3 separate regions of the Homo sapiens genome follow, and all the other regions are reported to be linked to region 3. The links are microRNA targets in miRTarBase. Many come from high-throughput screens and were not tested one by one. Region 3 holds a microRNA gene; each other region holds the end of a gene's coding sequence.
Evidence for each region. The annotated mature microRNA hsa-miR-378a-3p reads ACUGGACUUGGAGUCAGAAGGC and lies in region 3 at 1,367-1,388, opposite strand. An mRNA with a match to its seed (bases 2 to 7 or 8) in the 3' UTR can be bound and repressed. Matches are read on the target gene's strand: a 7mer-m8 pairs with bases 2 to 8, a 7mer-A1 pairs with bases 2 to 7 and ends in A, and an 8mer does both.

Region 1 (4,000 bases), not on the chromosome of region 3:
GCTGGATGCCCTAGTCTTCCACTTCCTGGGGTTCCGGACAGAGAAGCGTGAACTGCCTGTGCTGTGGCACCAGTGCCTCCTGACTTTGGTCCAGCGCTACAAGGCCGACTTGGCCACAGACCAGAAAGAGGCCCTCTTAGAACTGCTCCGGCTGCAGCCCCATCCACAGCTATCGCCCGAAATCAGGCGTGAGCTTCAGAGTGCAGTCCCCCGCGATGTGGAAGATGTTCCCATCACCGTGGAGTGAGGAAAACAGTCAGCTGTCCTGGCCAAAGGGGTTTGGAAGGACACCAAGACCCCCGTTGGTGACTGAAGATGACACTGAGCTTTAATGGCTGAAGACCCAGATCAGGGCAGTGACAGATCACAGGGACATCTGTGGCTCCCAGTCCAGGACAGGAAGGACTGAGGGTCTGGCTGGTTCCCTCTTCCATTCTAGGCCCTTATCCCTGTTTAGTTCTGAGAGCCAACTTGAGATACCATATGCTAGCATTCCCAGTCCCCAGCTGGGGCTTGGTGTGAGTACTTTTTCTATGGCTATTGTGTCAGGTCACTGTGGATAAAGGCAAAGACAGATATTTATTGAACCTCTGTGTTTGGTGTAGTCAATGGAGGTAGGCATTACTCCTGTTAGTATTTGGAGGACGGAGGACATTCTTGTCCTGTTTATATAGGACCCACCTCCCTTGATCTCCAAGCTTGTTTCTCCAGGCTGCACTCACCTTGTTAGCCCCCAGGGGACACATCCTCTGCCTTCCCCCATCACAGGCTACAGCAGCCAGGAGCAGGTTGTCCAAAGATGGTCGTGTCTCAGCAGTGGATGAAAGGACTACAAGAGAAAACTCCTTGGGGAAAGCAGAGATAAGAGTCAAGAAAGGCCAGAGAGGCTGGGCTTGGTGGCTCACGCCTGTAATCCCAGCACTTTGGGAGGCTGAGGTAGGTGGATTACCTGAGTTCAGGAGTTCGAGACCAGCCTGGCCAACATGGTGAAACCCCTTCTCTACTAAAAATACAAAAATTAGCTGGGTGTGGTGGCGTGTGCTTGTAATCCCAGCTACTTGGGAGGCTGAGGCAGGAGAATCGCTTCAACCTGGGAGGTGGAGGTTGCGGTGATCCAGGATTGGGGCCACTACACTCCAGCCTGGGCCACGGAGCAAGACTGTCTCAAAAAAAAAAAAAAAAGGCCAGAGAATAAGGCTGGGCCCAAGAATGGTTAGATCAGAGCTAGCATCAAACAGGCTCCCTTTCTGGCTTTTCAGCCAATGAAAGCTTTAGACTAGTGACTAGTAAACTAGGGCCAGGTGCCCCTTTTTTTGTTGATTTGTTTTTTGAGACGGAGTCTCGCTCTGTCGCCCAGGCTGGAGTACAGTGGCATGATCTCGGCTCGCTGCAACCTCCGCCTCCATGGTTCAAGAGATTCTCCTGCCTCAGCCTCCTGAGTAGCTGGGACTACAGGTGCGTGCCACCACGCCTGGCTAATTTTTGTATTTTTAGTAGAGACGGGGTGGAGAAGGGGTTTCACCAGGTTGGCCAGGCTGGTCTCAAACTCCTGACCTCAGGTGATCCACCCGCCTCGGCCTCCCAAAGTGCTGGGATTACAGGCATGAGCCACTGCACCCAGCCCAAGTGCCCATTTTTGTGTGGCCCATGAGCTAAGAATGATTTTTCCATTTTTAAATGGGGAAAAAATTAAAACAGTATTTTGTGATAGGTAGGAATTACATGAAATTCCAGTTTCAGCATCCATAAATAGTTTTGTTGGAACAGCCATGCTCACCCATTTACATGTTTTCTGTGGCTGGTTTTGTGCTACAACAGCAGAGTTTAAGTATAATCCTGCTATAACCCTTGTTATTTGCTTTCGAAATTGCGCATTTGTTCCAACCCATTTAATATATTTGGGAACAGTTTGATCATAACGCAGACTTCATGTTTGCTTGTGTGTGATTTCATCCTCGAGAAATAGTAGGTGAATATGGGAAACTGTATCTAGCTGAACCAAGCCTAAGTAGTACACAAAACTCACACCTAAACATGTACCAGCTACCTCACTCATCTCCCCACCTGTGTTGAGCAACCCTTCCGACGTCCACTTCCAAAAGCAAAGTGCATGTCTTCAAGATAAAAGGCCATATTTATTGTGATATAATTTCTCAACCATTTGACATATGTAAAAACCAAGCTATCCTTTTTTTTTAAATGTGTCACTCATTTGAGTGTTGTGCTTCAAGCCCCATTTTTCCCATGAGACCTGTGGTCTTTATTGTGCAATTTTGCATGGCATAGTGATTTTTAGGAACGCATAGGTCACATTATAAAGCAGAACTGACTATATTTGGGTCAGAGACCATGTACCCCACAAAGCCTAAATATCCAGCCCTTTACAGAAAAGGCTCAATGATCCCTGCTTTAGACCATTGACTTCCACCTCCTTACCTCATACAGTGCAGAAATAGACTTACCCACACACCAATCCAAGAAGCCAAAGCCAGTTTTATTTCACAATCATCTTTATTACAGTAGGATGATGGTCCTGGGCCACCAGCCTAAACCTTGCAGCCTTAGGAAAGACCTGTGTCAACAGGGCTTGCCTCCCTCTCTAGACAGGGGCTCAGCCACCTCCAGGGCATCCCTGCTGCATTTTCCCTGCTGGAGGATGGGGCAGAGGGACAATGGGAGAGGAGGGCATGACCCCACCCCAGGCTATAGCAGCTCCTTGGCCACAAAGATCCTTTTGCCAGTAGCAGAAGGGAGGAAAACAGCAACCACCAGGGTTACCACCACTTGTGGGATGGCCAGGACCCCATTATGTCCTCTTAAAGTTGTGCTCAAAGCAATTAATAAATTAAAATGAGCCTTCAGCAGCAAAGCTGTCAATCACACAGGAGAAGCTGAGCAGAAAGCAAAGCAAAGAGGAATTTATAGCTTCTCTGGCTGAGGCCTAGGCCCCTCCCTCTAGGAGCAGCTGTCAGCACGGACTACATAGGGGCCTCCAAAGTACTGAGAGGAGCCATCTAGACTATTCCCCCTCATATGTGTCTATCATGCATTAAATTTTAGAGGGACCCCAATCCAAATGCAATAACCCTAGAAGGGACAACACCTTTAGAAGGCACTAGAGCATTTTGGCAGTTGAAAACATGAGAGCCCCCAGGGGTGGGGGGGGGCGTTCAAAAGGAATGCTGGTGTATGTATCCAATTCTGTCCCATCAGCCTGGCCCACCCCCAGCTAGAGTTGGGAAAGGCGCTGCTGGTCAGATGCAGGGAGGAGGAGCTTGACTAGCCACCGAAATGCAGACATGGCTGGCCGGGCCCCTTAGTGCACACTGCGGGGATGGGTAGGACCAGATCCCTTGGGCTTTGTGAAGGGGGAACAGACGCCCCTTCAGGCTTAGATGTGGTGTGGTTCCTGGAGGCAGGGAGGTGGGTGGCAGCGGCCCCTCCTCTGCTTAGTGGCCACTCCAGAGGGCCTCTCCAGGGCTACAGGTGTATGGCTGTGACATCTGTAGGAGTGCTGGTCTGGCTGGGCCCTTGGCTGCTGGAGCCCCGGGGGGCTTTGGGCGCTGGGCTGGAGCTGGTCTGAGAGGCTTCCCTGAGGCTCTCCCTGAGTGCAGCTTCGATCTGCTCCTGACAGGCCCGCAGGCAGTCCTGGGAACATGGGAGAAGAGTGAGGAGCAAACACTCCCCCCATAGCATCTGGCAGCAGGTGCAGGGGAAGGACAGCTCCCAACACATGGGGAAGTCTGGGGAGGTTAGGCCACAGCCCGGCCCCAGGAATCGCTCTTTAGTTCTCAGAAACTAGCAAGAGGATGTGGCAAGGGAGTGTGAGAGCAGCCCTGCATCTGACACCAAACCCCCCACCCCCACTCCAGCACACCACTTGGCAAGAAAAGAACCCCTAGGGCCAGTGCCCTTCACCCCACCCAAGATACTTGCTCTTCCCCAGACCAAGGCAGGAGATAAAAAGCCACAAAGCCCCAAGGTTGTGAAACCAGGACTT
Region 2 (4,000 bases), not on the chromosome of region 3:
AGTGAGCTCTCAGGACAGGAGGAGAGGGTTAGCCCTAAGCAGATGAAAGAGTCCTGGCCAGGTGCGTGGCTCATGCCTGTAATTCCAGCACTTAAAGCTGGCCAAGGCGGGCAGATCACCTGAGGTCAGGAGTTCGAGACCAGGCTGGCCAACATGGTGAAACCCTGTCTACTAAAAATACAAAATTGGCCGGGCATGGTGGCGGGTGCCTGTAATCTCAGCTACTCGGGAGGCTGAAGCAGGAGAATCGCTTGAACCCGGGAGGTGGAGTTTGCAGTGAGCCTAGATCACGCCATTGCACTCCAGCCTGGGCAATAAAGTGAGACTTCGTCTCAAAAAAAAAAAAGAAAAAACATATATATATACACACACACAGCTGGCACCACCTGATCATTTTCCAGCACTTCCATTGCCCTCAAAAGTTCCTTCTTGCCTCTCTGCAGTCACTCCCTGCTCTGACTCCTGGCCCCAGGCAACTACTGCTTTTCTTTCATTTTTTTATCTTTATAGAGACAGGGTCTTGCTCTGTGTCCCAGGTTGGGGTGCAGTGGAATGATCATGGCTCACTGCAGCCTTAAACACCTGAGCTCATGCAATCCTCCCACCTCAGCCTCCCAAGTAGCTGGACTACAGGCATGTGCCACCATGATCAGCTATTTTAAATTTTTTTTTGGGACGGTGTATCCTTCTGTTGCCCAGTCTGAAGTGCAGTGGCGCAATCAGCTCACTGCAACCTACGCCTCCCGGGTTCAAGTGATTCTCCTGCCTCAACCTTCCGAATAGCAGAGATTACAGGTCCCTGCCGCCACGCCCAGCTAATTTTTGTATTTTTAGTTGAGATGGGGTTTTGCTATGTTGGCCAGGCTGGTCTGGAACTCCTGACCCTCAGGTGATCCACCCACCTTGGCCTCCCAAAGTGCCGGGATTACAAGCATGAGCCACACCTGGCCTTAATTTTTTCAGAGGGACAGGGTCTCACTTTGTTGCCTAGACAGTCTTGAACTCCTGGGCTCAAGCAATTCTACCTTTGCCTCCCAAAGTGTTGGGATTACAGGCGTGACTCACCATGCCTGGCTCAACTATCCTATGCTAAAATCATTTCTAGCATAATTTTGGTAGATTCCTTATGAGTTTCCTACCTAGACGACCATGTCATCTATAATTCTCTTGTCCAGTTTGCATGTCTTTTCAGCACTCACCACCCTCCCTGGCAGGATGGAACTTGATTATGGAAGGTTTGAAACAACAGTGAATTTTGAAGCAATAGGGTAAGAATTGTGGTCCTGGAGCAGTGCAAGGGCATTTTCAGCATGACATTCATGTGTCATCTAGCTCATCTTCTCACTCACTGGGCTGGGGATCCATCTTCTTGGTGGTACAGTCTCCAGCATGGGGGTTGCTGGGAGATGGGTACTTACCTGTGCATCTGGACCTATTTGCCATAAATGCTTTCCCAGTAACTCCAGGAGGATGAGTTCATTTGGGAGATCATTTATAGAGGTTCTATATTGACTTGATTCCCTCAAGTGCCTTATGTTTTTAATTGAAAGAAATCTTAAGATTTAATATTCTCTTGCTAGACCTGGGAAAAAACAAAATTGACTTTTTACCCTTTTTGCCATTCACTTCCTAGTTTAACACCGTAAACCTTTCTTCTAACACCTTTCAGTACGCAACAAAACTTAGCAGAATAAAATGGGGCTTTGGAGTTAAATTTAAATTCAGCCACTACTAAGACCTCAATTTACGTAATTCCTCCTGTATATTATCGAAGGGGATTAAGAACTTTTCAGAGAATTTAAAGGACTAAACGTGATTGCCATTTACCAAGCATTCAATACCTGCTTAGCACGAGACTGAGACAAGGTCTCTCCCTGCCTGTGCACTGCCCCCTTAGACACTGTCACATATCCAAGTCCCAGGCATTTCCTATCATTTTTATATATGGCGTTAGGCTCAGAATGCAAATCCTATATGCTATCTAACCAAGTTTTGTCTCTAGAACCACCAAATTTCAGAAGTGAAGACTTTTATTTAGCCATTACCACCCCCAGTCCCCAGAGGGACTCTTACCTATTGGGCTGATTTTTTCATCTTTTTTTTGAGATGGAGTTTCGCTCTTGCTGCTCAGGCTGCAGCGCAATGGTGCAATCCCAGCCCACCGCAACCTCCGCCTCCCAGGTTCAAGCGATTCTCCTGCCTCAGCCAGGATGGCTTTAAGTAGATTTGTAAAGAACTTTGAGACACTGTAAGGCCAAGGAATTAAGTGACTGTATTTAACACAGAAGGTATTCCATGAATAACATCAAAACAACGTGGACACTAAGAGAACACATGTAACTCATGGACGCAGGGGATGCATGTTGTCTGCATTCCTGTTTTCTGTGCCTACGTGTGCTCCACCCCACACCTGCTGAGTACATGCTGGGAAGACCATGTCAACCCTTGGAGCAGCTAGTGTTTAACCATCTCCTGCTAGCGCCTCATGTTTTACATTTTGGCACTAACTGTCATCCAGATACTCCCCTTTCCCCCTAAATAAGACACTGTCACACAATATCTTTTAACTCATCTGTATTTGTTACAACTTTAAGCAGAATGTGACTCGAGCACTACATTTCCATCCACAAGACTGGGTCTGAGTTATTTTTGAACAGCTTTACGATATGCTTAGGTAGGCTTTTAACTTTGCTCCTCCAAACAATACTTTTCTTTGGAAAACAAGCCCTGTGGAGAGATCCTTCCATCAAGTTGCTTCAGTTTAACCTATTTCTAGAGGACTAGTACATGCAGAATTGTCAACTACAGGGAATGAAAAGTTCAAAAAGTAGATCCTACAAGATGTAACGAATACTTTTCTAAACATCAAGATACAGCTCAGAACACTTCAATAACAAGATTTGGTCTACTTAGGCATCCGGCTTGACAGCTAAACACTTTAGACCACAAAGTTAACATCATGTTACATACGTCTTACAGTGCACGTTACCCCAATCTGTGAAAATAAACCAACATGAAACTCAAAAAGCATTACTAGCTCTGCTTTAGTGCCTAAGGTATCACAGCATCACTTAGTAGACAGAAATCTTATCTTCCCCTTAAAGTAGTTGTCATGCCATACAGACTTTTTAATATTAACAAAAATAAAGAAAAACATCCTTGAAAATATATTATCAGAGGAATTGTAGAGTACTGAACAGGTAAGTCATCCCTCAGCCAGAGATTAGTCTACTTCTTCCATGCGTGATGTGTCGTCATCTCCTTCAAGGGGTGGCATTTCTTCAGTTACAGCAGCACTGGTATCATCAGCAGTAGGGTCATCTTCATCAATACCTGTTTCCAAAATAAAATCCTCATATTACAAAGATTTCTTAAAGCCAGCTATTAGGGTAATACTCTTGGTTTCTATCTGCTTTCAAGACAGTATTACAGGACATATGAGTCTCAATTTCATTTCTTTGCTCTTGTAAGACCTTACTTATCCCTAAAAAAAACATACTTTAATACCTCCAAGCAGCAAGCAGGACAAGGTGCTCCAAGTTTGGATAACTGAAAGTTCACCATTTTCTTCAATGTCACGTGTGTTTATTTTCTTTTTAACATTACATAGTATAAGGCTTACCCAGACCAAGTTTGATCATCCTGTAGATCCTGTTAGCATGTGTCTGGGGATCTTCCAGACTGAAGCCAGAAGACAGGAGCGCAGTTTCATAAAGCAAGATGACCAGATCCTTCACAGACTTGTCGTTCTTATCAGCCTCTGCCTTTTGCCTTAAGGTCTCAATAATGGAATGGTCAGGGTTTATCTCCAGGTGTTTCTTTGCTGCCATGTAACCCATTGTTGAGTTGTCTCTTAGGGCTTGAGCTTTCATGATTCTCTCCATGTTTGCTGTCCAGCCATATGTGCTTGTGACAATACAGCATGGAGATGTCACCAATCGGTTTGACACAACCACCTGTAATCAAAAAGTGATGACTAGGAACCTAGAAAGATTAATTC
Region 3 (4,000 bases):
CGCCTCCCGGGTTCAAGCGATTCTCCTGCCTCAGCCTCCCAAGTAGCTGGGATTACAGGTGTGTGTCACCACGCCCAGCTAATTTTTGTATTTTTAGTAGAGACAGGATTTCACCATGTTGGCCAGGCTGGTCCGGAACTCCTGACCTCAGGTGATTCACCCGCCTCGGCCTCCCAAAGTGCTAGGATTACAGGGGTGAGCCACCGTGCCCGGCGACTCCATTTTTTAAAAATAAGATGTGATCTATATGAACAGGAAATAAACAGTCTGGAATATACATGACAATTAAGTGGTTATCTTTGGGTCATGTTACATATTTCTCATTTTTTTCTTTATGCTTGGCAGTATTTTCTAACAATTCTATAATTAAATATTTTTAAATAAGTTGTTAGAACTGATGATTTCTAACATTCCCGCTGCCAACTCTGACATTTTGTGCATCTATGACTGATGCCCTAAGCAACTTCAAATAGCCCATATTTAGTGTGGACTTGCTGTGTGGCCTTTGGGGTCTAAAATTTTGCCCACAGCTGCAGCCCTCTGCATTCCTCTCTCCCACACTCGCTGCCCAGCTGTCTCCCCTGCTAGCCTGGGAGCTTCTGCTTGGCAGGACCCAGCTGCACCCCTGTCTGTAATCCATGTGCCTAGCCAAGAGCTAAGCAAAGGAACACAGCTCAGCATACTGACAGGTGCCTTGCAGGCACAATGATAAAAGGTACAACCCTAGTGCTAGAATCTTACTGGACACCAGACTCACACAAAGTGCTTGGTTGTATCACACAGATGCAGAAAACCAAAGGAGAGAAAGCAGGGCAAGCTGGGCTGGGAGAGCCTAGTAGAGGAGAAGGCCATGCAGGACGGGTGAGTGAGGGTACTCTGGGCCAGGGGCATAGCCTGAACAAAGGTGAAGCCACCCACAGTCCTTTGGGATCCATGCCTCAAAGCTTTCCAAGAAACTTTCGCAATCCTTGTTCTGCTAAATTTCCGTACTTTGGCCCCAATGGGTAAAAGTTAAGTCTCCTAAACAGAAGTCCTCCCTCTAATCTAACCCTGGATTAGCCACCAAAGACAACAACAATCTTTTGGGACAAAGACAATGAATTACCATTTAATCCACTTTCCCCAAAGCTCCCAAAGGGAGATGAAGGAGGGGAGGGTCAGGGAAAGTTTGGGGGAGGAGAGGGGGTTGCAGGAACAACCAGAACATCTCACATGCAAACACTGCTCACCCCCACCACCAGGCCATTGGATTCTCTTGCGGCACCACCAGCCCCATTTGACAGATGGAGGAAATGAGGCTCGGAGAGTTCAAATGGCTTGCTCCGGGGTCACCCAGCCAGAGAGTGGGGAAGGTGACTCCACTCAGGCCTTCTGACTCCAAGTCCAGTGCTATTTCTAGGTAACACACAGGACCTGGAGTCAGGAGCCCTGGGTGGCTCTGTCACCCTCTGGCTGCATGGTCCCATACAAGCCGCTCACTCCTCGCAGCCTCTTTCTCCAGCTGTAAAATAAGGAGGAGCACACTGGGCCCGCCCAGGTCCTCTTCCGGCTGGGCTCTCCGAGCCTTCTAGGGGCGGCTCAAAGCTCATCCTATCAATTACATTTCCCAAGTTGGGCCGGCAAAGATCACCAGAAGATCCTCGGCCTGTCATGTGGTTAAATAAAAAAAGCAAATGTCCCAGATTAACTTTCACTGCACTGCTCCTGCAAACACCTGAGTATTCAATTTTCTAGTTTCCTTAGTTGAAATATTTCTGCTAGCTAGGCTCGCTGGGCGGCTAAAGGGCAAAATAATTAATTATTGCTGAGCCAAACACTGAAGATCGAGTTAAAATCCGGGGTACAGTCCAAAGCGGACAGTTCTTGACATGGGTCCCTGAACGAGTCTCCGGCTATTTCAGGCCTCTCTCATCCGCTTTTCAGCCAAGAGATTCGGAGACGCCCCAGGGCAATTTCGAGATCTGGGGACAGAATCTTCCCAGGAGTGACTCTGCCCCTCCTCCCGCACTCAGTGCCCGCTAGCCCCAAGCTGTCGGCTCTGGGGGTACTGAGGCTGGGACCTGCCTTCGGCGCAGACACCGGCGCGGGGCGTGTGACGGAGCCCGGCGACGACGGCGGGAGCTCCACCGCAGTTTCGTCAGAGGTAAAGGTACGCGCCCGGCGCGCGCGGCGTGTGCACACACACACACACACACACACACACACACACCCGCGCGCGCAACCCGCTCATCACACATTCCCCTCGATCTCGAGAAGCGCAATCACACGCCACTAGCCCCTCCGGCCTCTGCCGCGAACCCACCCGAGCGCGCCCGCCACCGACCACGCGGCCCCGCGGCTCCCCTACGCAGCGGCGTCTGCAGCGGGCCAGGGGCGGCCTGCCTCCCGCGTGGCGGGCTTCCTCTCGGCGACACCCTGCCACGCCACGCCGTCCCAGCCGCCAGCCCGAAGTCGCTGCCCGGAGCTGAACGTCTCGGCTGCGGCGTCCCTTCCAAGTCGCGTTTCACCGCAAGGAGTCAGCTTGCAAGCCTCTCCCCGCCCACCCGGTCCCATGACAGCTGCTGCCGCCCAAAGACAGGCAGATTATAACAAGAAGCAAAGTTTCCCTCTCTCTCCTCCCACCTCCCTCCCCCAATCTCCGCCTTCCCCCTCCCTTCCACTGTTATGCAAAACGGGCCGGCACCGGCGCTCCCACTCCAGGTACCAAACCAGCCCCCGCGAGCCGCGCCCGGTTCCGCCCGGCCGCCCCTCTCCGTGCCCAGGCGTGTGCCAGCACCCGGGGCTCCTCCGAGGTTCCGCCGCATCCTCAGCTTCCCAATGACCCGCAGCCGGGCGCCCAGAGAAAAAGCCCTAACTCTGGAGCCAAACTTTATGCTTGCAACAGGCATTGGGTGGGGAAAATGGGGGAAGGGGTGGGGGCCGCGCACGCCTCGTGCTGACATTTTTGGTGGCTGCTTGTCCCAGCAGCACCCCTCTCCCAGTCTCCAAGCCACCAGCTTCCTCGCTCCCCCGCGCCCCGGCACACCAGAGCACCCTCTCCTGTCACGCGCGTGTCGCCAGTGGGGCTCCCGGGCTCAGCCAGTGCCTGGGACTCCGCCTCGCCTTCCCTTCCCCCTGCATCGTGGAGCGCGCACCGGGGCCGCGCACCGCAGGGGGACCCAGGCGCCCCCAGACAGTCCTTCCGCCCCCATCCAGCCTGGCTTTTCCCCCCAGGGGGCTCCGCCCGATAGCGAAACCAGGAAGACGCTGTCTCCGCCCGCATGTCCACGTGCCCCGCAGACCCTTATGCCTTTAGCCGGCAACTGGCAGGAAACTCCGCGCTGCGGGCGCGGGTAGAAAGCCGCGGGGGGCCAGCAACAGCACTCTGGGGACTACAGCCTGGAGGACTAGGGGACTCCGGAGACCCGGGCATGCACCCGTGCCGGGGCCACAAGTCCACGTGAAAGTACGGCAGCAAGTGCCGGGCGCTGACGGCGCGCCTCCAGCACCCAGCGCCAGCCTGAGGGTACCCCACACCGTGGCGCGCCTCCACCTCCCAAAGGAAGCGCGGTACCCCCCAGTTTTGCCCGCGGGGTGGCAGACTCCAAGCGGCCAAGGCTAGACCCTCCCCAGCGGCCGTAGCGCCCCCAGCGCTCCGGCACGCGCCGGGAGACCTCCGGCTCCCTGCCCCGGTAACGGAGCGCATCGCAGGGCGCCTGGAAGGGGGGCTCTGCAGCCTGGAACCCCCAGTTACCCCAGGGCTCCCACCGCTGCCTCCCGGCCTCCGCGGCTGCAGCTGCGGCCCCCGCAGCTCAGCACCCCTGGCCCCGGGCCCGCAGCCCCAGCCGGCCGTACCTGCGTGTCAGCGAGATAGTTGAGGAAGAAGGAGGAGAGCTCTTCGTCCAGCAGCGCGCCGCAGTCGTTCCCCGCCATCTTCCAGCCGCGGCTGCAGCGTGCGGCGGAGTCAACGCCGAGCCGGCCCGGGGGGAGGGAGCCAGCGAGCGAGCAAGGGAGGAGGGAG

Region 1: the mRNA of BYSL is a reported target of hsa-miR-378a-3p. Seed matches in the 3' UTR shown: 7mer-m8 at 388-394.
Region 2: the mRNA of HSP90AA1 is a reported target of hsa-miR-378a-3p. The part of its 3' UTR that is shown has no 7-base or 8-base seed match.

What each region holds. Positions count from the first base shown.
Region 1 is chr6:41,932,460-41,936,459 of GRCh38, forward strand. It overlaps BYSL (bystin like), which reads left to right. Exons shown (of 7, transcript NM_004053.4): 7 at 1-587. The coding sequence ends at 247. It overlaps CCND3 (cyclin D3), which reads right to left. Exons shown (of 5, transcript NM_001760.5): 5 at 2,493-3,648. The coding sequence ends at 3,481. Among named protein-coding and RNA genes, the nearest start is that of CCND3, 7.3 kb to the right of the region's middle.
Region 2 is chr14:102,078,489-102,082,488 of GRCh38, forward strand. It overlaps HSP90AA1 (heat shock protein 90 alpha family class A member 1), which reads right to left. Exons shown (of 11, transcript NM_005348.4): 10 at 3,623-3,956; 11 at 2,254-3,333. The coding sequence ends at 3,224. Among named protein-coding and RNA genes, the nearest start is that of HSP90AA1, 6.6 kb to the right of the region's middle.
Region 3 is chr5:149,730,255-149,734,254 of GRCh38, reverse strand. It overlaps MIR378A (microRNA 378a), which reads right to left and starts at 1,430; the gene lies at 1,365-1,430. PPARGC1B (PPARG coactivator 1 beta) reads right to left here and starts at 3,945. Exons shown (of 12, transcript NM_133263.4): 1 at 3,835-3,945. The coding sequence starts at 3,912. RefSeq lists silencers at 2,278-2,507, 2,538-2,627, 2,648-2,697, 2,708-2,807, 3,608-4,000 and enhancers at 3,278-3,327, 3,338-3,457, 3,696-4,000.